Homo sapiens: one gene and its partner. Changing the gene in region 2 together with the main gene of any one other region gives a genetic interaction. Each region holds a gene or a part of one and is shown on either strand. Other genes may lie near its edges.

Region 1 (8,000 bases), on a different chromosome or scaffold from region 2:
AATGAAATGATCAAGGGTTAAATTGTAGTAAAATCAGATAGGTCAAGGTATTCTCCAACTTGATATTTTCCAATCAAAACCAAGGAGCCAATATCACCCCTTCCTCTTTCCACAAGTATTCCTGAGAGCTGCCTCTGTGCCAGGCAACATGGCACGCATGAAGGAACACCGTTGGTCGGCACAACCAGGCGTGTTCCCTGCCCCTGCGAAGTATTCACAACAGCAAGAACACTAAACCCACACATGTGAAAACTGCTGGGACGGGTCCATGGTGCCACGGAGCCTAGAGTGGGAGATGGGATTACTTGGAGGTCAGGAATTGGAGCTTAACAAGAAGAGGGGAGGCAAGGGCCATGGTGCTGAGTCATTCTTAATTGGGGAGTCCTTTTGAAAAGACATTTGTGTTCAAAGCCTGAGTGATAAATTTGGCTAGTTCAAATGAAAACTAAATACATTCCAAGGATACATGTAAGTGCACTGATTTGTCTCCAAATTGATAACTGGGCATTATGCCAACAAGTTCAATGATATTCTGGATGTCATTTAAGTGATTTTTTAAAAGGAGGTTGTTTGGTTGCTTCAAGACGGTTGGCAACTTGGAAAGAGGAAAAGGATAAGGTTATGGAAGACGGAAAAAGAGAATGGAAGGAATATTTTTAAATAAACAAATTCAAGTTTACTGGGAAGGGATTAAATCCCATATTTCAGGGTGAACAGTTAGTAAGATCTGAAGGAGTATAAAAGCCGGGGCGGTGGGGGGAATGTCACCCAACTGCAAGTTTTTAGCAATTATACCTTAAAATTATTTTCATCGCTAGACTCTGACCACTGGTTACAGAGCCACTTTGACAGTAGCTGGCATCAAAACATTATGTGCATACAGTAAGTATTAAAATGCGACTTGAATCTCAAAAGGACAGTACATTCCTCAGGCCAGAAGCTTAAGCATCTCTTAGAAAAACCTACATAGCACAGAGACACAGTTAGTACTTAATATCTAGGGACCATGGATTTTACAAGTAGTTATGAATCAAAGACTGGCGGTAAAAACTATATTATTAACAGCAGTCTCTCAGCCCAAAAGAGACTAGGGCAGCTAAGGAGGTCAAGGCAATTAGGTCATGGTTGTAGGTTCCTTTTTTTTTTTTTTTTTGCATATTGTAAACATCTACACCTCCTGCGATAACTCACGTACTCTATCCTCAAATTTGACATACCGCAAATTTAACTATTAAACATGGTTATCCACATCTTTCTACAAGGTATCACAAGGGTACCTTTGTGATACAAGGGTATCACAAAATCAGTAGAGTGAAGCCTTGCTAATGAACACATGCGCTGGAAAATAGATCTAAAATACCACGACCAGAACAAGCCACAGTCTTGGCGGCTGTCCTGGCCCACAAGAAATATTCCAGCCTTGAAGACTGAAGCCGATAAAATGCAGTCGTTTCAGCACTGCGTCCAGGGAAGAGTACCCGGAATGCTCGTTACACTGACCCCATCCTTTGAGAACTTCTAGCCACTCTAGCGTGTGTTTGGCCAACTGAGTCTGCAGGCAAAGCGCTGAGCGAACGCGAGGGCGCTGGCTGGTTTGCGAAACCTGTCATTCCTTCTGGAAACGCAGCGCCTGCCCAGGTTTTTCCTGGCTCTGAGCGAGCTACACCCCAGGCTTTCTCTGCCTCGGGAAGGCGGTGCCTGCTCGGGCCGCTGCCGCAGGAGGACTGGGTACCAAACCCGCTCGCTCCAGGCACCGCTGGCATCCAGGGCGGTACGCGACGGGGAACCCGAGGGTGGCTGGGCTCCCCGGCGGGCTCCACCACGAGTCCTGGCCTCACAGCTGACTTTCCGCATCTCGGAGCTCCGGAGGCCCGGCCCGGGGTCCATTCTCCACGGATCCCCCTCCGCGCAGCTCCTCCGCCTCGGGCTGCATGGCTCCCACCGGAAGAGTGCGCAGAAAGGCTCAGCCGCCGTGGGCAGGGCGCGGGTTTTATTATTGCGCATGGCGCAGTCGCCTCCCCTGGAGACCCGCGACAAAGATGCAAGCCCCCCGCCGCGCTCGCCGCTGCTCTGGCCCCGCCCCGGCGCGAAAGACCCTGAAAAGCCTCCAAAGAGGGGTTCGCACTCCTGAGTTTGCAGATGCGGCTGGATGGGCTGGGAAGTTCTCTCGGCGGAAATCGGAGGGACCCCCCCACCCCCACCCCCACCCCCAAAGACCCGCGCCTCCCGGCGCAGGTGGCCCGGCACGCCCGTACCTTGGTGGCGGGGTCCGAGGCAGCGATGGCGGGGTCCGCGGTGGTGTCTGGCGCCGCCTCGGCCGAGGGGCCGCCGCCGCTGGGCTCGGGCTCAGCCGGCGTGGAGCTCCCCTCGGGCGGCTGCTCCGGGCTGCGCTGCTCGGTGGAGCTCCCGGCGCCCATGGCTCCTCCGCACTTCTCCCGCGCCTAGCCGCCGGGTTACGCCTTCCCCAAGCCGCAGGGACAGGGGCAAGAGCCAAAAGACGCGCGCCCGCGAGGTCCCGAGAGCGCCTTCCTTCGCCGCCAGCCGACTGCGAACGCGCCCAGCCTGCGAATGAAGGAGACGCGCTCGCGGCAAACTCCTTAAAAGAAAAGGAAAAAAAAAAAAAGGCCACCTCTTAGCCTCCGCCCCCCTCCCCCCGGTTTTTCCCTCGCTTCATCACATGAGCACAGCCCCAGACACGCCCTGCAGCAGCATCTGCCCCCAGGCTGCCGGGACCAGAGGCGCTGCGACGCGCCAGCCCAGGTCCAGGCAGCCGCCCACCCGGCCCTCGGGCGCCTCCCGTTTCTAACAGGGCGACTAGAGCTGCGGGGACGACCCAGGGCCTCAGAAGGCAAGAGAGCAGGGGAGCAAAAAGCCTGCCGGGGACACTGGATTCTCTGGGGTTTATTAAATGATGGATCACCCAAGGCAGGAGCTTCTGCTGCAGCCGACTTTCAGCTCGCCCAGGAGCGAGTCCGAGTCCCCATTTGCTTTCCTGCAGATTGTGTTTAACTCCAAACATTTGTTCCAGCCTCCTCCCCATTAGCAGGAGAAAGGCAAGCGCTCCCTGGCTCCTCCTGAGTCCGACCATATTTGGGCACCTCACGTGGCAAGAGCAGGGAACCGAGAGGTTAACGCAGTCAGGCCACGGATGAGGTGGGCCACGCAGGCCCACGCTCTCCTATCCTCCGGAACAAGTGATGTCAGGCGATGCCATCAGCAGTGCTAGCCGCCCCCCTTCCCCCGGGGAACGGGGGGAAATGAGGCTGTTACCGGAAATGTGCCCGTCCTTCTTTGAGGGCCTGTGCTGGAAGTTACCCATCCAGGCCACCTCTGCTCCGCGCGATGCCGACACATGACAGCATAGATCTGTTCCTTTGCCGTCAGCCTTTCTCAAAAGATGAAGACTTTAAATAATACCAGCACAAGTGGCTTGCATCCTTTCATTTCCGACCCTTGAATATAATATGTATTACATGAGCATGGCAGCCAATCAATAAGTATTTGAACTAAATTAAATTTGTAGCTGGATTGCTTGGCGCAAAGCATTAAGGCTTTGGGGCTGAAAGACAAAATTTATTCCAGTTGTAACTAGCAACCGAGTGCCCCAGTTTTCACAAATACTTTGAATCTCCATTAAGAATGAAGAAACCAGCCTGGTTAACATAGCGAGACCTTGTCTCTACAAAAAATAAAAAAATTAGCCAGGCGCAGTGGTGCACCTGTAGTCCTAGCTACTCAGGAGGCTGGGGACGCTGGGGTAGAAGGATGACTTCAGCCCAGGAATTCGAGGCTGCAGTGAGCTATGACTGTGCCTCTGCACTCCATCCTAGTCGACAGAGCAAGATTCTGTCAAAAAAAAAAAAGAAAGAAAGAAGGAAGAAACTTTCGGAATATTCACACCAAATTCCAGATAAATATCTCATACTCAGATTTAGTACAATTTTGTAGAAAGGGTGTAAGCAGTAGTTCAGCACTAGGATGTTTCATGCCTAATGAATTGCATGAATCGAATGGTACCCTGGGAACCATAGGTTAGTTACTCACCATCAAATTTGTTTTCTGAATTAATTTTTTTTCTTTTTCTTTTTTTGAGACAAGGTCTCGCTGTGTTGCCCAGGCTAGTGTTGAACTCCTGAGCTCAAGCGATCCTCCTGCCTTGGCCTCTCAAAGTGCTGGGATTATAGGTGTGAACCACCACACTGGGCCTGTTTTCTGAATTAATTATTTTTATTTAAAGGACTACACGAAGGCCAATTTCTCTGGAGTTTATCTCTTAAGAAACAGTATATTTGCAAAATGCTTAGTTTTAGGAATTTATACACATTTCCCCCATTTTGACTTAAATTTTGACTATTTAGGAAACATTAGAATTCTTACTCTGTACCAGGCACTGTTCAATGCACTTTACATAATAATCTTTACAATAACCCCATGGGATAGATAGTATTATTCTCATTTTACCATTGGCAGGAGGGGGAGGAGTAGGCCCGGAGAAATTAAATTGTGTGCTTCAGGTTTCACAGCCAGGAGTTGGAAGAGCAGGAAGTCCAACTGGCATCTGCTTTCAGGGTCCACGCTTCACCACCGCATGGCACTCCCCTTCCCTTTCAATCAACTGTGTTCTCTCCTCTCAGAGGTGTTACTGAAACGTGGCATTTGGACCTCACTTAGGATTTTAAGAGCAAAAAGCACTGTTAAAACCTACTTGAGGCCAGGTGTGGTGGCTTACACCTGTAATCCCAGCACTTTGGGAGGCCGAGGTGGGTGGATCACCTGAGGACAGTAGTTCAAGACCAGCCTGGGCAACATGGTGAAACCCCGTCTCTACTAAAAGTACAAAAATTAGCCAGGCATGGTGGCGCGTGTCTGTAATCCCAGCTACTCAGGAGGCCAAGACACGAGAACTGCTTGAACCTGGGAGGTGGAGGTTGCAGTGAGCTGAGATCATGCCATTGCACGCCAGCCTGGATGACAGATTAAGACTCCGTCCCAAAAAAAAAAAAAGAAGAAGAAAAAAAAAACTATTTGAGAATGATTAACGTCAGCACATTTGAAAATGTATCAGTAAGTAGCACAAATACTATCAACATTTTCACATTCTGTGAGATTATATTTACTTTGTTCCTGGGAAATTCTTAGCAAAGCTTTTCACATCTACTACCCTTTAAATTTTCAGAAAGGATTGCAGGGTCAAGCCAACAGTGTACAACCTACGTGCTGAGGAAGATATCAGCATCTGCTTAGATTAGCAGTTACTTGCTTTTTGTTTATTTTCCAGGCCATGTAAATGTTCATACTCTTATTTGTAAAAAGTAAAATCATTGCGCTGGGCGCGGTGGCTCACGCCTGTAATCCCAGCACTTTGGGAGGTTGAAGTGGAAGGATTGCTTGACACCAGGGGTTCAAGACCAGCCTGGGCAACACAGTGAAACTCCCATCTCTACAAAAAATAAAAAAAAATTTAGCCAGGAGTGGTGGTGCATGCCTGTAGTCCTAGCTACTTGGGAGGCTGAGGCGGGAGGATCACTTGAGCCCAGGAGTTCCAGACTGCAGCCTGGATGACATAGTGAGACCCTGTCTCAAAAAAAAAAAAGAGAAGAAAAGAAAAGTGGTTGTGTTATTAATGACCTCTAGCGATGAAATAGCCCAACCTTTTGGGTATGCCACTTAGTGCTTCAGAATGCTACAAAGTTTGTTACTTTTTTTACTTTTCTTTCTTTCTTTCTTTTTCTTTCTTTCCTTCTTCTCTGTTCTTTCTTTCTTTTTCTTTCTTTCCTTCTTCTCTTTCTTTCTTTCAATAAATTTCTATCAAGTACCTATTATGTGCCAAGCACAAAGTTACCACTCTAGTTTCCAAGGTTCTAAATCGAGTCACTGAGGTTTTCTTTTCTAGGGCTTCCAAGATGCCTTCGGAATTGCTTGGATTGGCATCAGAGTAGAGGGGAGGCAGGTGTTCTCTATTTTTCACTTCTCAGTCCAAGGCTGTTGGTTCAATGTCTCACCAGCAGCTCAATTTTTCTCCAAATAGCAGGATGCAGGTGTCCCCACACATCCTCTCCCATGGGGCAGTCGTTGGTAGAGCTGTTTCCCTGAGAGGGTTAATTCTCTCATAAACACAGTTTGAGATTTCTCAAAAACAAATACATGTTGCCTGTGTAGCAGGCTGAACCTGTACTTCGCACACATACTTCTCCAGAAAGACGGGTCACATGAGGTTTAACAATAAAATGTAGAGTCATAGTTGGGCACCTTGTGCATGCACCAAAACAGTTTCAAATATAACATTAAAGGAATTCACAAATGTCAAACATTTTACAACTGAGTTCAGACACCCCCTTCAAAGTGCAATAATAATTTTAATTATTAAAACAGTTTAAAATCTACCGTTAACTCTACCCTAAAGATTCATTCTCTAGTTACAAAGCCTTCGCTGAGACTGGCAACTCTTCACCTTCACCTTTGAAACTGCTTCTCTCTTGATTATAACTTCTTTGTTTTCCCTGGATAAAACACCTACTTCTTTCTAAACCAGTTGTTCCCACAGAGATATCCAGTCATCTAAGAACCTAATTCCCACTCTATCTTGTGCTCGTGTGAATTTGTTATTCTTAATACTCCCTTATCACAGAGCTGTTTCAGGCAGAATAGAGAGTACTAGAATGTGCGCATGCATCTCTTAAGATATGATTTTACTTTTTACAAATAAGAATATTAACATTTACATGGCCTGGAAAATAAATAACCAAGAATAATGTTATTACCCTGTTGAGAAGTCTATGGAAGAAACTGTGAGTAAATTATTTGAATTTTACTTTCTATGTGAGGATTTGAGACGGATTATTTTAGAGCATTAATTATAATTTGCTAATTATAAACTAGAAGAATTAACAGTTGTATTCAATTCATGAGTACTTAATAATCTAAAATTCATATGGAAGCTACAGAAAATGTTCAATTTACAGATGAAGTTTAAAGCTCAGCCGCTTGTAGACATACATCACGTATATATATATAGGCAAATGCTATCCTTGTAACTCTTAAGGAATTTATTGCTTTGGAGTTAAGTATAAAGCCAGCTATTTGGATCTCAGTTTCATTTACCAAGGTTTAAGATTGGTGCCTGACTCAAATTCAGGATTACTCTCAAGTAACAAAGGAGGGACTGGAACCAAGATAGAGTAAATGATGTGTCCAATATGGAGAAAGAATTTCTCAGGATGCACTGTTAGAAGATACCAGAAGGTATGTGGAAGGTGTCTACATTCCAGGGTAGATCAAGTGGCTGTAATCCTCACAATTTCAAATCCCTTCTACAAAGGACCCTATAAGTATCCAACATTAAAATATATATTTTTCACATATTAATTAAATAAACTTTCACTGAGTTGAGTGCCAGGCAAAATGCAGAGGACTTTTCAAAGTTGGAAACTTTGCTTCAATAAGTCAACATTGCGCACTCAAAACAAAGCTATTATACAATATATTATACGATGTGAACTGTAGATTTTATGTTCCTCTACCAACTTAAATCCCTTTGTGGCCTGGTGCGGTGGCTCACATCTATAATCCCAGCACTTTGGGAGGCGGAGGCGGGTGGATCACCTGAGGTCAGGAGTTTGAGACCAGCCTGGCCAACATGGTGAAACCCCGTCTCTACTTTAAAAAGATACAAAAATTAGCCAAGCGTGGTGGTGTGCGCCTGTAATCCCAGCTACTTGGGAGGCTGAGGCAGGAGAATTGCTTGAACCTGGGAGATGGAGGTTGCAGTGAGCCAAGATCGCGCCACTGCACTCCAGCCTGGGCGAAAGAGTAAGACTCTGTCTCAAAAAAAATAAAAAAGAAAAAAAGATTAGGTTGTGAATTGATAAACATCTCAACTAGCAATACACAAAGGAAAGGTGGATAACCTGATCTAATGTTTATTTTGTATTCCTTTAAGTTAGCTTGCTAAATGCTTTTAAAATCATAACAATAGCAATAAACCTATATAAACATGCCCA
Region 2 (7,004 bases):
ACGCCAAAGGGCCTTCCCCCAGCCCGCGAGTCCATGCTCACTCAGGCCACTCGCCTAGATTCCCAGGCCCCTGATCCTAGGGAGCCAAAAGGGTTAGGGAGGTGGCTAGATCTGGGGACTCCTCCTAATACTCAGGCCTCTAAGGAAAGGGCTGTCTGGGGGCACCTTCCTGTAGCCCTAAGGCCTGGGGCCTCCAGGGAAGGTTACCACAGAAACAGGGGGAAAATATTACAAGGAAACACAATACCCGGCAGGGTCACCTGCTGACCGGGCTTCCTGCTGTGTTGCCCACCCCCAGCTCACTGCTCTCACAGCCTCCTTCTCCAGCCTTGGCCTGGGCCTCCTCACCAAGGCTCTCCTTCCTGCCTCCCCAGAGCTGGGAGAAGCAGTCTTAAGCAGAAACTCTGCCCCTCCGTGGTTCCAAACAACAACATCGAGGATGGCCCAGAGCTGAGCCCCCCACTCCTAATCCTTACCAACCCCTCCTCACCATCACCACAGGAAATCAAAGCTTCCTGCCCCAAAGGAAGTGCCCCATCTAGTGAACAAATCCAACACACACAAATGCACAGTCCTGGGAGCCTCCGGGAGGACAGATGCCCTCCCGCTAGCCCCAGACTTTATTCAGGCCCTGCTTCCAGCAATACCCCACACCCCACTGGAGGCCTCAGTCCGAAGTCTAACTGAGGGCAGGCCAGGGAGAGCCAAGCTGTGGAGGGTGGGCCAGCAGAATGGGCACTGGCAGAGTGAGAAGGCCTGGTTCTGGCCCCCTCCGCCTGCCATTCCCTGGCTGTGTGACCCTGGGCCTTGCATTAGCTCACCTTCTCTCAGGCCCCTGCCGACTTCAAAATTACCAGCCCTTAATGAAAGGCCAGGAGAAAGAAGGCAAAGAGGAGATGGGGTTCCACAGGCTTCTGTCTTCCAAGTCCTTGGGCATGCTTGCCCACAGCTACCAGAGGGTCCCCACTCCCTACCCCATCACACATGAGTTTCTCTCTTGCTCAAGGGTTTTATATCAGAATTGAGAAAGTTCCAGCTTCCATGCCAAGAGGCCACCAAGGACTAAAGCTGAGGTCCATTATCCCTAAGCAAACTGGAGGGGGTGGATAATAGCACAGTACCTTCATTCTCCTCTCCATAGTCAACCTCTTCTGCTCTGCTCTGAGAAGTGTGCTTGGAATTTTCTCCCCATTTTACTGATGGGGAAACTGAACTTCAGTGTCAAAGTGGAGTGAACAGCTTAGACATGCAAACTTCCCTGCCCCAAAACCCACTGTAAGACCCGGTGGCCACAGAGACACCCGCCGAATAAGGGACACAGAGGCCTCTGGAGAACACTGCACCAGGACCATTCCAGGTGCAACATCAGGAGGCAGCTCTGAGCTTGCCTCTGAGCCTGGCCCTGCTGGGCAAGGAGGGACATCAGGGGACTAAAGGCAGAGGACCAGTCCCAATAGGTCCAAGACCTGGTTCCAGTCTAGGTTCACTGGGCTGGGTACCACTCACTGGGACTACTCTGTGCCTTAGTTTCCCTCAGAAATGACTGCAGAGAAGAAGAAAATGACTTAATAACCCATGGGTAGCGGCAGCCTAGCAGCCTATGGAGTCCTGGGAGGGGGAAAGGGCCGCCAAAGCGTCTCATTGGAGGGCAGGGACCTGAGTCACAGTCTCCTGCCAGCCCTATAGCTGAATAGGGGTCCTGAGGAAGGTCCCACAGGTCCAGATGCAAGTCCAGGGAACAGGCTGAGAAGTTGATCTTGAGCTCCCAGCAGGGCCGCTGAGGGCCGATGCCCCATTCTCACCCTAGAAAGCGGCAGGCAGAGCTGGGCCTCAGGCAGATGTTGCCTAGGGGAGTGGGCAGGGAGCGTTGGCAGCGAGACAGCCAGTGTCCAGATGCAGGGGGAGGCCTTTGGGTGCGCAAGACAGCCAGCGGGGAGAAGGAGTGAGGAGCAGCCGTGGCTGGGGAGGTCAGACCCAAACGGGCAGCCACAGCGGGAAGCAATGGGGGTGGGGCACTGGGTGGCCTGCGGGCCCCAGAGGGCTCTCTCCTGGCCCACAGGCCTAGAAACTCTGGTCGTGGGAACCCAGCCCATCCGCCAAATTTGCCGCCTGCTCTCACACTCCCCAACACCAACAGACCCCAGGCCTGGGGGGTGCACATCCTGTCCCCCACCCCTCACACAGCCTGCGGCGCCCCGCTTCCCGCGCCGCTGCCGGCATTGACCTCCACAGCTCACCAGGGCACAGGTGTCTCTTCACCCTGATGGGTGAGCAAGGATGGGGGGCAATGCTCAGAGAAACCTCCCAGCCAGAGACCCCTCCAAGGGACCTCTTTCCCCGCCGAAGGATCTGAGTAGGGCCCTGCCCGGCTCCACGGGATGGGGGCGCTGATGTCCAGCCCCACAAAGCCCAGCCCCAACTCAGTGGGTCCTGCCCTTTGCCCTCGCGCTTCCAAACCTTCCGCCCCGGAGCACCGCCCCCTCGCCGGGCCACCGCGGCCGTCCCTCCCTCCCCGGTCCCTCGGCTCGTCCTCCCCGGGAACAGGGGTGATGGGACGTGGGGCCCGCACACCGGCGGCCGGGGCCTCCAACTCCCTCCCTTGGGCCTGTAGCTGCCCCGGGGCGGGCGGATGTGGGCGCCCCGCGGGAGGCCCGAGCCCTCCGGCCCCCGGAACCAGCTCCGACCCGGAGCCTGCCAGAGCCCCGCGGAGCCGGGCGGGACAGGCGCGGTCGGGGGGCGCAAGCCGGGCTGGGCCCGCGGGGCTGGCGGGAGCCCGAGCCGGAGCCGGAGCCGGAGCCGGGGCCAGGGCCGGAGGCCGAGCCTGGGCGGGCGACGCTGGGTGCCGCGCGCAGGGCGGGGCGGGGGGCGGCCGCCCAGTACTCACCAGCGCCGGGGCTGTGCATCCAGGGGCCGGGGCCCTCAGAGCGGGGGGCTCATGGCGGGGCGGGGGGCTGGGGCGCCGGCCTCACATCCCCCCAGTCGCCGGAGGCTGCAGAGCGACTGTGAGACGGCGAGAGGAAGGGAGGGGGCCGGGAGGGGGAGGGCCCTGGCAGCCCGGCCGGCCGGGTAGGATGACAATGGAAGGAAATGCTTTATCTGAGTCTGAGAGCGGGCCAAGGGGGAGGGGAGGGAGGGGGCAGGCGCTCGCGGCCCTGGGACACACCACCCCGGCAGACACTGCACCGCGCGGCGCACAGGCGGGCCGCAGACACCGCGCGCGGCCAGATCGCGGCGGGGCGCGGCGCACTGCCGGGGAGGCAGCGCCGAACCCGGAACGCCGGCCGCGGCTCCGAGCCCCAGCCGCCGCGAGGCGCTCCGAGCCGTGCACAATTCCCGGAAACCCAGCTACCTGGGCGCACGCACCCTCGCATACACAACGTACACGAGCACGCATCCATGTTTACAAGGGGCAGAATCATTTACACAGCACACACTGGGGCTTCGGGGTGGACCCCCGTGCACACACTACATACCCGTACAGCCCACAAGCACGCAGCCACACGCGGGCACAGTGGGACACGCGTGGTGTCCCATGTCCCATACAAGGAATCCCAGACGGACACCCCCCACCACACACACACACACATAAGCACGACTTGCCTCAGGAAAGTTCCAGGATCTGATTTGAATCACTGCCCAGCCCTCCCCCACTGGCACCCCCACACACACACCATGCCTGCTGAGGGGAACGGAAGGGTCCAGCCTGTTCCTATTAAAAGAAAAAGGGTGTGGGGGTGGTGCAGATTTTGAAAGTTTTCTTTTTTTAAAGAAATTTCTCAAGGGACTTCCTTCCCTCCTCTCCTCTTCCTCTCTTCCTCCCATTCCTCTCCCTCCACAACCCCCCTCTTTCCCCCTCCCGGTCCCTATGAGTCAAACTTCAGCAATGTGCCCAGTGTCCCCCAGTGCATTACAGCGGATCACAGAAATGTTCCAGTCTGTGAGTCGGAATGCAGCCGCCTCCAGCCCTCCCTCAGCTAATAAACTCAGCTCAGGGCCGGCTTTAGGCAGTGGCCCTCCCTGCCTCTCCCTCCGCTTTTAGCTGGAGAGAAGGTCAGATTCAGGGGTCAGGGGCTAAGGACCTCGCCATTGTGCTTCCTGGGCTAGCCGGTCAGCCGTGTCTGCCTCCAGCAATCTGGAGCTGCTCCTAGGAAGGGGAGAGGTCCACCACGCAGGAACACTGGGCTCTCTGCAGCGTGAGGCGCCACCATTGTAAACCAAGGAGCAGCTTCCCCTGACCCCATTCTATCTCCCGCAATCCTAAGAAACCCCAAGAATCCAGAGAAGGAAAAATTGAGGCAGCCCCAGAGGTGGAGTCATGTCTGATTGGAAGCAAGAGCCCACAGTGGCCTAGGAGGGCTTGGCCATGCTGGCGGTGAACTTCAAACCATAGATTCTATTCCCTTCCCTCAGGCACAGCTCGGGACTCACTATCTGTTGCTACCGGCATATTCAGCGTGGGACTTCTTACTTCAGCCCCTTTCCTTGTCCCAGTTCTCCTTCGGCAGGCAGATCCAACCCCTCTGCGCTTGTTAACTTACCCTCCCAAAAGCCTTTCCTGGCATTCAAGTCCTCCTACAACCTGGCACCACACTCCATACACATCCCTGCCCAGTGCCTCCTGGTACTTAGGGCTCAGTAGTGTTAGTCACTATTATTACTATCATTATTTCTGCCAGACTGGGCTGCTAGCTGCTTCCCATCCTGTCCTCACGCTTCCACACTCCCTTGCCTTCGCTCATCATGCTGCCTCCAAAAGAAATGTCCTCCCAGCCCCTTTCTCCTTCTGTTGAAATCTTTCCAATCCTCAAGACCCACTCCCTATCTAGTGGGAGGGAGGGAGGGAGGGAAGGAAGGAAGGAAGGAAGGAAGGACTGGAAGAAAAAGAAAGTGGCATACCACTTTCTCCGGGAGGCTTTCCCGGATTCCCATAGCCAAGAGGAATTCTTCCCTGAACTGTGTGGTCTTTATACATTGACCTTCGCCCACCTAGTCTACTTGTCTCAACTCTCTTCCTTCCAAGAGCATTCAAGAGTGGATATCCCTGAGTCCAGCTACTGCCTTGGTCATGGGTGCATTTCTTGTAGTGTCTTGCACAGAATTCAAACTTGATGTGAGTTATTTGTTGAATTGGGACAGATGTTCATGACTTTCAAGAACCCTTCTCCAGCTGGACACCTACAGTACATTCTTTCACCCCATAACTACCCATGCTGACTCTCCAAGACACATGCTGTTCCACCTTAGGTATGTCATCCCCAGCCCTCAATTCCAAGCCAGATCATCCTCCTTCCAAATGCCTCTTTGGTGTCCACAGACTCCAGAAAAACTGCTTGGTTACTGCAGACCCCCAGCGACATGCCTGCTATCTCCCTTGTCTAGCTCCACAATTGATCCCAACCCCCAACACACACATATCCGTAGCTTTTCTGTAGCTATTTCTGTAGTAAAGCCAGGCCCTTTTATGCTCATTTCTACCATGTGCATTGTGCATACATTTATTTGTGAGTCTTCTTTCTCTTTTTAAACTCATCACTGAGTTTTGAGTGATCTGAATTAAGAGGCTATCTCCCTGCCTGTCTGTCCACACAGTGCCCAACATGTGGCTTTCTACACACCAGGACTCACTGCCTCCAACATATAGTCAGAGAAAAAGACAGCATGTGCAACCTGCATCTGGGAAAGCTGGACTGTGTCTCTCCTTCCCCTGCCAGATTTACTTACCAGACCCCGCCTCATGGCAGAGTCCTAAGCCAGTTTCTAAGTCACATGTCCCCTACCAGGATAAATTAGAAAGCCTCCAAGAACCTTAGAGACATGAGACAGAGAAATGCAAGCTACCTCTCTCTCTTCTAGCCTGGTTACCGTGGGGAGCCTTTTTTTAAAAAGCTCTTGAGTCCAGGCCTCTCATAGCTTTCTCAGCTGAACACCTAGCAGAAGAGACTGGCCCCAAAAGACGTGCCTTGGCTTCCTGAGCCTTCCCTAGAGTCTCCGGCCAGCACAAAGCCTGAGGGCACCCCAATCTGCTTCCCTTTGGGACTCTGGGCCTACTTGACCTTCTCTTCTCCTTTTCCTCTCCTTCTTTCCTTAGTTAGCTACTGTTTACCATTTACTGCGTAGCAGTCCTTGCTATCCCCTGGACAAACATTAGATCATTTATTCTTAACAATAATCCTTGTTATGCTCATGAGTAAAGCATGGCCTTTATGGTTAAGAAACCTGATCAAAGTTGCACAACTAGTAAGTGACAGGGCCATTCATTCATTCAACAAATATTATTGGGTGCCTACTTTGTGCCAGGATTTAAAGCCCCAGAAAATTATCCAAACTTTCTGATACCCTCCGTTCCCAACCTTCTAGATGTGGGGGCCATAGCCACAATTCCTCCGCCAGCCTGCACTTATCCTCACACACTTCGCACAAAGCCAACCAGAAAGTGCTCCTTCCCCAAGGCCTCAGTTCAGTGAGATCTCAGTGGACACTCATTGTATTGGGTTAGTTTGGATCTTGCATTTCAGTTTCTGGATCTGGAATCAAATGCCAATTCTCAGGGTTTGGGACTTGCAGATTAGTAAGGGAGATTAGGTCCCCAACTCCAAATAAAGGGTTTCATGGGACCAGACATAAGAGATATAAGAAGTACGGGAAGGAAAGAAGAAAGGAAGGAAGAAAAGGAAAAAAAGGAAGAAGGGAGAAAGGAAGGAAAGAAGAAAGGAAGGAAGAAAAGGAAAAAAAGGAAGGAAGGAAGGAAAGGAAGGAGGGAGGGAAGGAGAGAGGGAAGGAGAGAGGGAAGGAAGGAGTGGAAGAAAAAGAAGGAAGGAAAGATAATTTAGGATTTATTGAGCATGTTCTACATATCGCACGCTGTTCAAAGCCCTTTCACTTAAATCTCATTATTATCCCCATTGTTTCCATGAGCAAAGTAAAACTCAGAAAGACAAAATGATCTGCCCAAGGCCACAGAGCCAGTAAGTTACTTAATCCCAAGTATGTCTGATTCAGAGCCT

What was found.
Region 1: of HDAC7 (region 2) and AKAP12, a change in one rescues a mutant of the other (synthetic rescue), as found in Homo sapiens cells (one study listed by BioGRID).

What each region holds. Positions count from the first base shown.
Region 1 is NC_000006.12:151,234,980-151,242,979, reverse strand, and holds the start of AKAP12 (A-kinase anchor protein 12), read right to left. Parts: upstream 3,014-8,000; 5' UTR 2,921-3,013; intron 2,597-2,920; 5' UTR 2,418-2,596; coding exon 2,256-2,417; intron 1-2,255. UniProt on the Homo sapiens protein: Anchoring protein that mediates the subcellular compartmentation of protein kinase A (PKA) and protein kinase C (PKC).
Region 2 is NC_000012.12:47,816,883-47,823,886, forward strand, and holds the start of HDAC7 (histone deacetylase 7), read right to left. Parts: upstream 3,022-7,004; 5' UTR 2,904-3,021; coding exon 2,885-2,903; intron 1-2,884. UniProt on the Homo sapiens protein: Responsible for the deacetylation of lysine residues on the N-terminal part of the core histones (H2A, H2B, H3 and H4).